Linked DNA regions of Homo sapiens: region 2 is linked to region 1. The links come from fine-mapping of genetic effects on gene expression. A gene starts in region 1. The other region holds a variant in brackets. All regions are shown on one strand. Distances are between the middles of the regions.

The links. PIP is the estimated chance that this variant, and not a neighbour inherited with it, causes the effect. A credible set is the group of variants that fine-mapping cannot tell apart.
Region 2: its variant is the best candidate, but not a certain one, in a credible set for the expression of ASTN2 in whole blood (TOPMed, PIP 0.86).

The regions. Positions count from the first base shown.
Region 1 is chr9:117,412,139-117,417,515 of GRCh38, forward strand. It overlaps ASTN2 (astrotactin 2), which reads right to left and starts at 2,919. Exons shown (of 23, transcript NM_001365068.1): 1 at 2,359-2,919. The coding sequence starts at 2,800.
Region 2 is chr9:116,706,110-116,711,486 of GRCh38, forward strand. All of the region lies in intron 16 of ASTN2 (astrotactin 2), which reads right to left. Among named protein-coding and RNA genes, the nearest start is that of TRIM32, 21 kb to the left of the region's middle. The variant A/C (reference allele first, on the strand shown) is at 2,571.

The DNA of each region.
Region 1 (5,377 bases):
ACACAGCTCCTGCTATACCCAGCCATCTGGTGACTACCTCGCTAGCCAAATCCCCGTTGAGAGCGCCTAAAGCTGCCAGCCCAGGGCGCTAGGGGGAAAAGGAGGAGGCAAGAACCCAATCCCCCGCATGCATCCAAAAGGCTCAGCGCTGCCAAGGAGGCCAGCCCCGTGCTCTCCAAGGGGCAGAGGGTCCCAAGCTGCCAGGCTCAGGGACCGTGCATCAGAGGAGGGGGAAGTCTCCATGTGCAGGTTGTTGCCAGGAGACTCTCAAGCAACACATGGGTCCTGGGGGAATCAAGACTTCTAATTCCTCGCTCAGGTCCTCACTCAGCTTGTCCCAGGCTCACAGGCACCCATCCTGTTTGAAAGCCAAAGTTAAAAATGGCAAAGATTGTCAGTTCCAGGAATCCCGGGGCACCTATACAGATGGTTGGAGCAGGTCCTCCATATCCTCGAAGACTTGAAATGCTCTGTGGTCCTCACTGCCAAGTCAGGCCATACCCAAGGACCGTCTCATCCCTTCACTTGAATGGCCGTTTGGGGGGCGGGAGGATTTCCACCCCTCATCTCTCAGAGTACCCCGGAGTAGAGAGATCTAAAGGATGAAGGGAGAAGGTCAGGAATGGAAGTGGTAGTGAAGGGATACCTTCTGTGTCTCTAGAAAGACCCTTCCCCACGGGGAGGTGGCAAGAGCCAGCTGTGAGCCTGAGGTTAGTCCGGCGGCGCTCTAAGGAACACCACCTCCACCCTCCTTCCCTTTCTCGGACATGGGCAGCCCCACAGGTGCACGTGGGAAGAGCTACTGGTTTGTGTGTGTCTGTGTGTGTGTGCTTGGTGCGTCGCACCCCAGAAGCGCCGCCGCGGGGAGTCCCCGAGGAACCTGCAGGACGCTCCGCTGCCTCTCCTCCCGGAACGCTCGGCACGCTCAGGTTACAGCCTGCGAGGGTGGGTACAGGGGCTCGACCCCCGAGGTTCAAGCTCAGAGCGGGAGAACCACTGGCACTCGCTCAAATCCCCAGAGGTGGTAGCATGAAAGGATGGGGAGTGGGTCACAAAAATACTTTTAACAATATCAGGGCTACCAGGAGAGTGGAGCGTAGTCCGCTGATTATTCTGTGGGTCTTTTCAGGCGAGCAAGGAGTTAACCTCGGAAGTTCAGGGATCGTAAAGGTTCTCACCTGGAAGGCCCCTCACCTGCGGTGCCCGAGGCGGATCCCGCCGAGGAAAAGACCCGGGGAAGAAGAGCTCCGGGTCTGGGCGAGCCCCTGGCGCCTCACGGGCGCTGTTGTTGGCCAGACTCCGACAACCAATAAGGCCCCGCGCCCCCAAGAGGGGAGGGGAGAGCGAGCAAGCAGCGAGCGCGGGAGAGCTAAGGGGAACAACATTTTTGTAAACGCTCTCCGAGATAATTAAGCTATCAATTACCCGGGTGGGAAATCAGCTGCGCTTCCCACAGCTCCACTGAAGGGCCGACTCCTCCGGGATTCGCGCAGGGAACCAGCAGGCAGCAAGCTGCTGGCGAACTTTTCTGATTAACTTTTCCGTTGGAGCCCCCCACCCACACCCATCTCCTCTCCTCTCCTTTTTCTTGCCTTTAAGTAATTATTATTAGCCCAGGGAGTGAGCTGCAAGGACAAACCGGCTCTCTGCCTGGAGGTGGGTAGAAAGGGAAGGCGGTAACGGGGGTAGAGGGAGGCTCTAAACGTGGAGACCTCGGAGTCGGAATCCCAGTTCTCAGCAACCACTCAAGTCTCTCCAGCCCTATTTCACAGATGGCCAGAACTGAGGCTCAGAGAAGGGAAGCGACTTGGCCAAGGTCACTCAGCCCATGCGGAAGCCACGCTTTTGCGGGTTGAGCGATTCCACACGGAACTACTCCATTCCTACTCTCATGAAAATCCATCTGGAAGGGCAGAACCCGCAACTCCGAGGCGAGAGCGAGGGGGCGGTGACGGCGGGTGGCCAGTGACGGTACCCGGAGAAGTGGGAGGCTCGACCTGAAACTGGCTTAGGATCTGGGATGCTCCGGCCCCTAGCCAGAGCACCTTCAGTGAATGGGGTCTCCGGCTTCCGGGATGGATCAAGCAGAGCTCCAGGTCGGGACTGAGAGGCAGAGGGGCAGGTTCCCACTGCGGGAGGGTTGGCACGCCCCCAGGCTCCCGCCGCGCGCTCTCCAGGACCTCCTCCCACATGCTCGTTTCCAACCACCTGTGCGACCTCTGGGCCCCTCCTCTACCCTCTGCCAACCCCACTCGGGGCAGCCCCGGGCAGGGATCCCCAGGGCGCCCCCACCCGTCCGGCATGACGCAGGGGCTCGGGGTTCCTTGGGATCTAGCGCGTGCCGGCGCCCAGCCTTACCCAGGGTGAAGAAGGGCAGCTCGGTGTTGTCCAGGTCGTCCTGCACCGCGATGCGCCCCGGCAGCTCGTTACGCACAAAGAGCAGGAGGCGCGACTCGGCGGCGGTGCCGGCAGAGCCAGGAGAGCCCGGGGACGCGGCGGCGGCGGCGGCTCCGGCCCCGGTCCCAGCCCCGGCCCCGGCGCGGGCGCCGCTCCAGCCGATGTCGCTCTCCCGCAGGGCGGGCAGTGTGGACACCGTGACGGTCTTCAGCCGGCACGGGCTGTCGGGCTCCCGCGAGGCAGCGGCGGTGGCGCCGGCCAGCAGCGGCGGCGGCGGCAGCAGGAGCAGGAACAGCAGCAGCAGCGGCAGCAGTGGCGGCGGCCCCGGGTGGAAGCAGAGCCTCGGCCGCCCCCGGAGCCCCGAGCCGGGGCCGGGGCTGAGCCGGGCGCCGGCGGCGGCCATGGCGGGAGGGGCTGCGGTGCTGCGGGCGGCGGCGGCGGTGGCGGCGGTGGCGAAGGAGGAAGAGGAGGCAGCTGCGGAGACGGCGGACGCCGAAGCGAACCAGGACGCCCGAGCTAAGGAGCGGAGAGAGCCGCTCGCCAGCAGCCCCCAGCTCCGGGCTCCGCCTCCCGATCGGCCCTGGACCGCCCCCCCGCGCCGCCTCCCGGGGCCCAGCCGCCCGTCCCCGATCTCCGGCTCCCCCCGCAGACCCCGAGCGTTTCGGAGGCTCCGCCCGGCCTCGTGCAAGTCCCAGTGGCTCCCTCCCCTTTCCCAAGATCCCCCAATTCCGCCCTCACAGCATTCTTTAGCCACAACACCCCTCCCTAAACTCCCCAAATTCCTAATACTTAGGGCCCCCTCGGGCCCCCCCAAGCCCCCCTGACTCAACCCAGTTCTCCTGGCTTCACCCCACCTTCGGCTCAACCCAGAGGCTGCACCTGGGGGCGCGCCTTGGCCCAGCCTTGCTCAAGGCCCCGCCTTCTTGGGGATAGGGAGCCCCCTGGATAGCCAAGACTTAACTTTGTCTCCCCTCAGGCCCAAGAACAAGTCCTTTCTCCAATCTCCTACCCTTTTCTAGTCTCTGAAATAACTTCCTGTAGCCTCAGAGCCCCCTTCCCACCCACTTGGCCACAACTCCTGCATTCATTCTCCCACTGCCCGCAAACCTTCCTCTCCCCTCCATCCAGGCCTTGTGCTAGCACTAATTGCTAATGGACAGAGGGGCGTCGAACTCCACCGTCTAACGCCGACCCCACAACTGACTGAAGCCGGGCTGTTCTGGCCCCCTAGCTGCCGCCCTGCAAGCCAGCCCACTCACGCTTTTTTATTTTGGATCCCTGCTCCCAGCTTGGAGCAGCTCTACTTGGCTGCTTCTGCTCTCTGTGTGAAATTCCTGAAAAGGGTGTGAGGTAGAGACCTACTATTCTGTCTGTCCTTGGCTCCCGGGTCTTTTAGATCCTCTGCCCAAGTCCCAGAGAACGGGAGTGCTCACCAATTCTTCACCTGCAGTCTTTCTAGACTCAAGTTGAGCTAGGTCCTCAGATTCAGCACCCTTTGGTCTTGGGCTGACTCTGTCTCTGACCCACATACCTGAGACCCTCCAGGGAGCGGACACCTCTGCATGGGTCAAGTGCCGTGCAGCCCCTTCCCCACTCCCCTACTTTTCTTCATCTTCCCTGTCTCTGTTTTCTGTTTCATCTCTCCATTCATTTCCTTCCTTCTCATCTTGACTTTAATCTTACAAATGCTTCTTTCCTATAATTTGTGAGCAACTTCTCATCTCTGTCTAGCTTACCCATCTGCACCTTTTGTGCTGTCTCTATGCATTCACTTTTCTCTTAGCTCTTCCCTCTTCTGTCTCATTCCCCTTTTCTATCTTTAACCCTTCATATAAATTGCTTTTCTCCTCTCTCATCATATATTTTTTAATAACGTTGGATAAAGGCAGAGCACTGAAAATAAGGAAAAAAGCAAAAGCTGTTTTGCGACCTTGGACTTAATGTGTTTAAAGCATTCTCCAAATGCTAGACATGTACGTATGTTAGCTTTTTTACATGACCATAATCCAAAAAGATGGATATTATGATTCCCATTTTCCATGTGAGGAAACTGAGATCAGGTGGTCAGGGAGGTGAAGGGATTTTCCAAGGTCGTATAGCAAATGAGCTGAAGAGCTGAGGTTTGAACAGTAGGCTTCAAGCCTTGACTGTTTCCCTTAAATTACACTGTCCTCAGTGACCTTGGAAAACCCCACCCATCAAAGATGCTGTAAAAGGTAAATCTGCATAAGCACAGTTGGATCTACTTCCCTGTGAGGTTTGTAAGGTATACTTCTCCTGTCTCAGTTTACTAATCTGTGAACCCAAAGGATGTGTGGAGGTTGGGGTGGAATCTGGCCTTTCAAGTCCTCTAATTCTAAATGGTCTCCTGCCTCTCTGATGCCTGCTCTAGTTCATTTACTCCTCCAAAATATGTCACCCTGCCTCCCTCAGTCTCTCCTTTGTGTCCTTACAATCCGCCACTATCCACCGCAATGGGGCTTTCTGATTCTCTATGCCCCTTTCTTCAAATATGCTGACATAGTCCATTTACAGAAGAGCACACCAGGAAAAAAGGGCTCCCTTATGTAAGGCAGAGTCTGTGCAAGTCCTTCATGGACCTCTAGTACAAAGGCCTGTCAAATGAGACCAACACTTTCATTCATTCATTCATTCATCACCAAATATTCAGGGTGCCTACCAGGTGCTATATGGAGATGCAGGGATGGATAAACACAACTCCTGCCTTTGGAAAGCTTATAATGATTGGGGTGAGGGGGTGGGATGCCGGAAAGAGACAGGCACATAAATATCTCAGGTAATGGGCAGGCAGGCAGACATGTGTTTCCTAAGATGAGGTACTTGGAGAAATCAAAGAAAGCTTCCCAGAGGCGGTGGCTTTGGAATTGAACCATAAAGATTAGTAACAAGGGAGTGGGCATTCTAGGTTAAAGTTGGCATTTGGCATTCTTTGCAACTGCTTAGTAAATGAATAAATCCC
Region 2 (5,377 bases), 710 kb before region 1:
AGGCATAGTTTGAAAATGCATACCCTCTTCGGTATTCTAATATCTCTCCTGATGGGGAATCACTGATTGACATTGTCTCAGAAATACATTTTCTGTCCTTTAAAAATTCTGAAATAATATCAAATTTTTCTCCCCTCAGAAGCCTACGCCAAATAAGTGCTGTAATCTTAGTACAACTTTGTAGTACAGTCAGACTCATTTGTTGATGTCTGACTGGCTGAGTTTTTAAAACCTATTATTCCCCCTTCCGCCCCATATCTGGACATGCCAGTAAGAAAGCTCAAATGCTTCCACCTTTGTGCCTGGTGGAAGTTCAAACCACCTAAGAATCCTCACTGCAGCCCTACCTCCAAGCCACTAGGAAAAGCCAGGCTCCTCTACTTTCCCTGCTCAAGCCATTTCTGGACCTGCTTGAGAACTCGCTGCTCTCTGTAAAAGCCTCGTGTGAGTGATAAACCTTTTCATATCTATTTGGTCCTAATGTAACATCAGTCCTAACACCTAAACCAAGTTTTGGGTAAGGGGTTCAACCTCTCCTCTGTGGGATGACTAAACACTTTATGCAACAAGCAGAGGGTCTAGGAGATGACCACTACCACTGCAGGGCTCTCCTCTTGCTTTAGTTTGCTAACTGACTCTTGCTGGCTAGAATTTTTTTTTTTTTTTTTTTTTTTTTGTCACTGCTGGCAAGCTCATGCTTTGTGCTGTGCTGCTTTGTACTGCGTTCACTGAGCCTTACCAAGCTTCTGTTATAGATGTGCTCAGCTAAGTTGGAATTTTTGATAATTGGCATTTAAGAACAAGAATAAAGTGGCATTTAAGAACAAGATTAAAGTGGCCCTGGGTCATGTGTCTTGGTCGAGACTTACCTGTGTCTCTGAATTGTGTTTCTGGATCCCAGTGTCAGCTGTGACTGTCACGAGGCTCAGAGGAATGACTCTTACCCTGTGACTTTTGGTTGTTTATCTCAACCAGGTGTTGCCCTCATTGTATGGCGTACTCAAAAGAAACAGTCATACCCTATGCAATATGCAGGCTGGTTGGTAGTCACTCATGGACGAAGACCATGTTGAATGCTATGGTGCACACTCCCAAAAGCAGATGGTTTACTAGGACTTTACAAAATGCCTTTCTTCCTACTTCTGCCTATGCCCTATGCCACTATGCCCCCTGACCAAAAAAAAAAAAAAAAAAAAAAAAAAATTCCTGATCCTAAGGGTTATAGGGAAAAGCATCCATGCTATAGCCAAGGAGTTCTTTCAAAGCCAACTTAAGCACTGGGTCCTCAAACCCTATAAAGCAACTGTTGGCACGGGAGAGAACCTAATCCTGATTATATGTATTTGCAACTCTGGAGGAAGAATCTTACACATATGAGCAGGATCGAGAGGACCTTCCCTCCTCCCCAACCCCTCCCCACACCACCACCAAATGATATACGGTAGCCACCAAAAGGAAAATAAAATAAACTTGGATACTGGGGGAAAGAAACAAAAAACTAAAACAGAGGTTCACAATTTGACCCAATTGGAAATCCAAAATTAAAGAATTTTTGCAACAACAACAAAACAAGATAAAAGGTTACTATTTGGCTTTTGTACCTCTACAACCTAGGTTCCGAATTAACTTTTAACATTTGCTGAAATGCACCAGTTGTCAACCCTTCATAGCCTTAATATTGGGCTTCAAATTATACCTGGAATTCCCCTAAATTTAAACAAAGTACCCCTATAATCTTAGGGTAGTTAACTGAGGATATTTTAGGACATGTTAGGAAGACAAATAGATATGCCTCATCTTAATCAGAACTATTGCCCTGCCTAAATTCCCCCATAGCCATAGCACCCATTAACTTAAAATATCCCATAGTGGGCATGGATGCTCTAACCCAATGAGTAATAAATTAAAATTGAATTAAGTCTTTGGCACTTACAAATCAGCTTGCCAAAATGGGACGGCATGGACCTTCCCCTCCTCCGTTAGTTAAAATAGTTAATATGGCCCAATTTAAATTAAAACAGAGTCTTTGAGGTTTGAAACCCATATACCAGACCTATTTGGAGAAGAGTGACTATCCCCACTGCTTCACCATTAATGGCCCAATGTAGCCTGTTCAGAAACCTAGAAAGAATGAATGGCATCTCACAGTAGATTATTGCCATGTTAATGCTGAAGTTCTATCCAATAAGGCTCCCATATCAAATATTATCAAAATTACTAACTTTAATCAACAACTGGTAAATACTTTTAATTCATAGATTTGGCTAATATTTTAGCAGCGACTCAGCCACAATTTGCCTTCACCATCAAAGGGATGCAGTATCCTTTTACTCAGCTACTCATGGGATAACAACAGCCAGGTCTTCACACAGCCTGCAGACAAGATCTTGACCACATTTAACTTTCTTCAGGAGCACAGTAAACACTGATCATACTGATCACATCATCCTCCAAGAAGGTTCATTTGGCACACTCACTGAGGACACATATAGTCATAATCATAAAAGAGCTCACGAAAAAGGGATGGACCACTACCCCACACAAATTACCAAGTCCTTCCACCTTGGATA[A/C]ATTCCTGAAAGCTATTTAGCTGAGGGCCATTCTATCCCTGACACTTGCCAGAAACAGCATTCGCAATTTTTTTAAAAGCCCAATATGTTTTAGTCTATTTTGAGTTCTGGAGACAGCATATTTCTCATTTACAAATTTTACTTAAACCCGTTTATACTATTACTTAAGCTCACTTATGAATTATAATACAGGCACTGCAATTAGTGACCCCTGAGAGTCCTTTACTTAAAGGCTTTAGCAACCTCCTCCCATGATTCCTGAAGTCTCTGGCCCACACTTGATGGCCCTAAGTTGCCCACAGGCATCTTGTGCCATAAACTGTCCCTTCAGCCCCATGCTATATGCCATTAGAGTGCAATTGCTGGCTGCATATTGGACTCTCCTGGAAACAGGCTGGTTGTCACCGGCCCTCAGCCTGTGACTCTCCATACCAGCTGCCCATTATCCCTTGGGTCTTGAAATCACACCCTAAAAGTTCAACATAGCCACTGAGGTTTCCTTGCTGTAGCATAGAGCCAAACCTGGCATATTTCACCTATAGGAAAAAGTCTCCCACCACCACCCTCAGCCCCTTGCTAAATACCATGGTGCTGGTAAAAGTCATCCCCCTTCCCAGACCCTTTGGATATCTGTGGAAGCCCTTGCAATCAACAGAGTGAAGAGTAAAGGGAGTTTCTCCACTTTATAGATGGTATCACTACCATTGTATGTGATGGAGCTTGCTGGAAAGTTCCTGATTTTTAGCCCATAACTGGGACATCCCTGATAATGAAACAGGACCCAAGTCAGCACAACTGGCCAAACTTTATGCGGTCCTTTTAGCACTGAATACCCTGACCAACATCTGCACAGTTCTATAGACTGTTGAACCACTGCCAGTGATTTGCTCATCTGCTCCAGCCAATAGCAGCAAAAACAGTTTTCTATCCAAGGTTGCCTCTTTGGGTTAAATAACTCTGTGACTCTCTTGCCTCATATATATATACTTATACTCAAAGTATAAGTCAAGGTCATTTCTACTCACAATAAATCCACAATAAAAGGCCTCATTAACACTTTAACCCCTTCAGTAGTCTAGAAATTATTGATAGTGACTAAGGCATTCATTTCACATCTCAAAATACATAATATTGGGCTCTTGTACAAGGCATTTAATGGAACTTTCACCTCCCTTACCAGCCTCAGGCTGCAGGCCTCATAGAAAGCCATAATGGTTTATTTTACCTAAACAAGTTCAAGTTCAATTAAATGAAACATGCCACATTTCAGTCATCAGTCAAATATCAGGGATGAATCGTAATAAAGATTCTGACTCCATTTTTGGTACTTGACTGCTAACAACTTTCAAATTCTTCTACTTACTCCCTCTTCTTCAGCTTCACATCTGGGAAAACTGATAGGGAAGCCTAGGTAGGCCTACCTTTGGTGCCAGAGGGAAGCTCAATCCATGCAAGCCCCAGATAATATATGAGAACCTCCCCAACCTTACCCTACACCCCTCACCTCCCAATCCAAGCCAGTCTCCTTTCCCTGCTTTCTCAAACCATGTTTGGACCTGTTTGGAAGCTCCCTCTGCTCTCCCTAGAAAGCTTCATTATGTGAGTGATACATCTTTTCATATCTTCTTGGTGTGTGTGTGTGGTATCATCAGCCTCAACATCTGAAGCAAATGTTGGGTGGGGGTACATCCCACTACTTCTGAGTGACAACAGATGTTTAGAGTTAAATATTGAAAGAAATTTCATATTACGATAAATGACAATTTCAGACCAGGTGCAGTGAGCTCACGCCTGTAATCACAGCATTTTGGGAGGCCAAGGAGGGGGGAATCACCTGAGGTCGGGGGTTTGAGACCAGCCTGACCAACATGGAGAAACCCTGTCTCTACTAAAAATACAAAATTAGCAAGGCATGGTGGCGCATGCCTGTAATCCCAGCTACTCGGGGAAGTCTGAGGGAGGAGAATCACTCGAGCCCAGGAGGTGGAGGTTGCGGTGAGCTGAGATCACACCATTGCACTCCAGCCTGGGCAACAAGAGTGAAACTCCGTCTCAAAAAAAAAAAAAAAAAAAAAAAAGAAGAGAAAAAAGAAAGAAAATTTTGTAAGTTCTGAGCAACCACATGAATAAAGCCATGTGTTTTGTGAAATGACGTTTAATATTTAAACTTAAAACTAGTAATAAATCTCTAAATCTCTCAGACCCCAAGATATGAAACTTGTTTGACACATTTAATGATTCTGTAAAAGTGTAAGAAATGAAGTTAAATGAAGAATGTCATGGCCTGAAAGGATGGAAAGGCATTAGACATGCATATTACCTTGCCTGATCCAAGACTCAGGGACTGGATATAGAAGAATGAAACTTCCATTAATTGATACACTGGAAGAAAGGCCACATACAAATAGGCAAATATACCGTAGACCCTGCATAGAAGGCTAATTAGCTAAATGTAAGGTGCAAATGCTCAAGCAACAACCCTGAAAGTGTGTATTCCTCCTTTCTGCTCTGGCGACTATGCCTATTTATTCTCCTCAATGAAATGGGCATATTAACTCCAGCCTATTTAATATGTACTACAACTACTCTTCAATGCCCCATAACATTTTACACAAGTAAAAGCTGCCTAAAAATGAGCAGCATAGTCAGCCTCTCTGAATGAAATAAAATGTCTCTAAATAAAATGTCAGAAATAATACAAGGTATGGCAGCAGGAAAGTAGCTTAAGAAAACAAATTGCAAAAGGGAACATTTATTTTTCTTCTGGACGATACCATCTTTTTCTATGACTTCAATCATGTATGCAG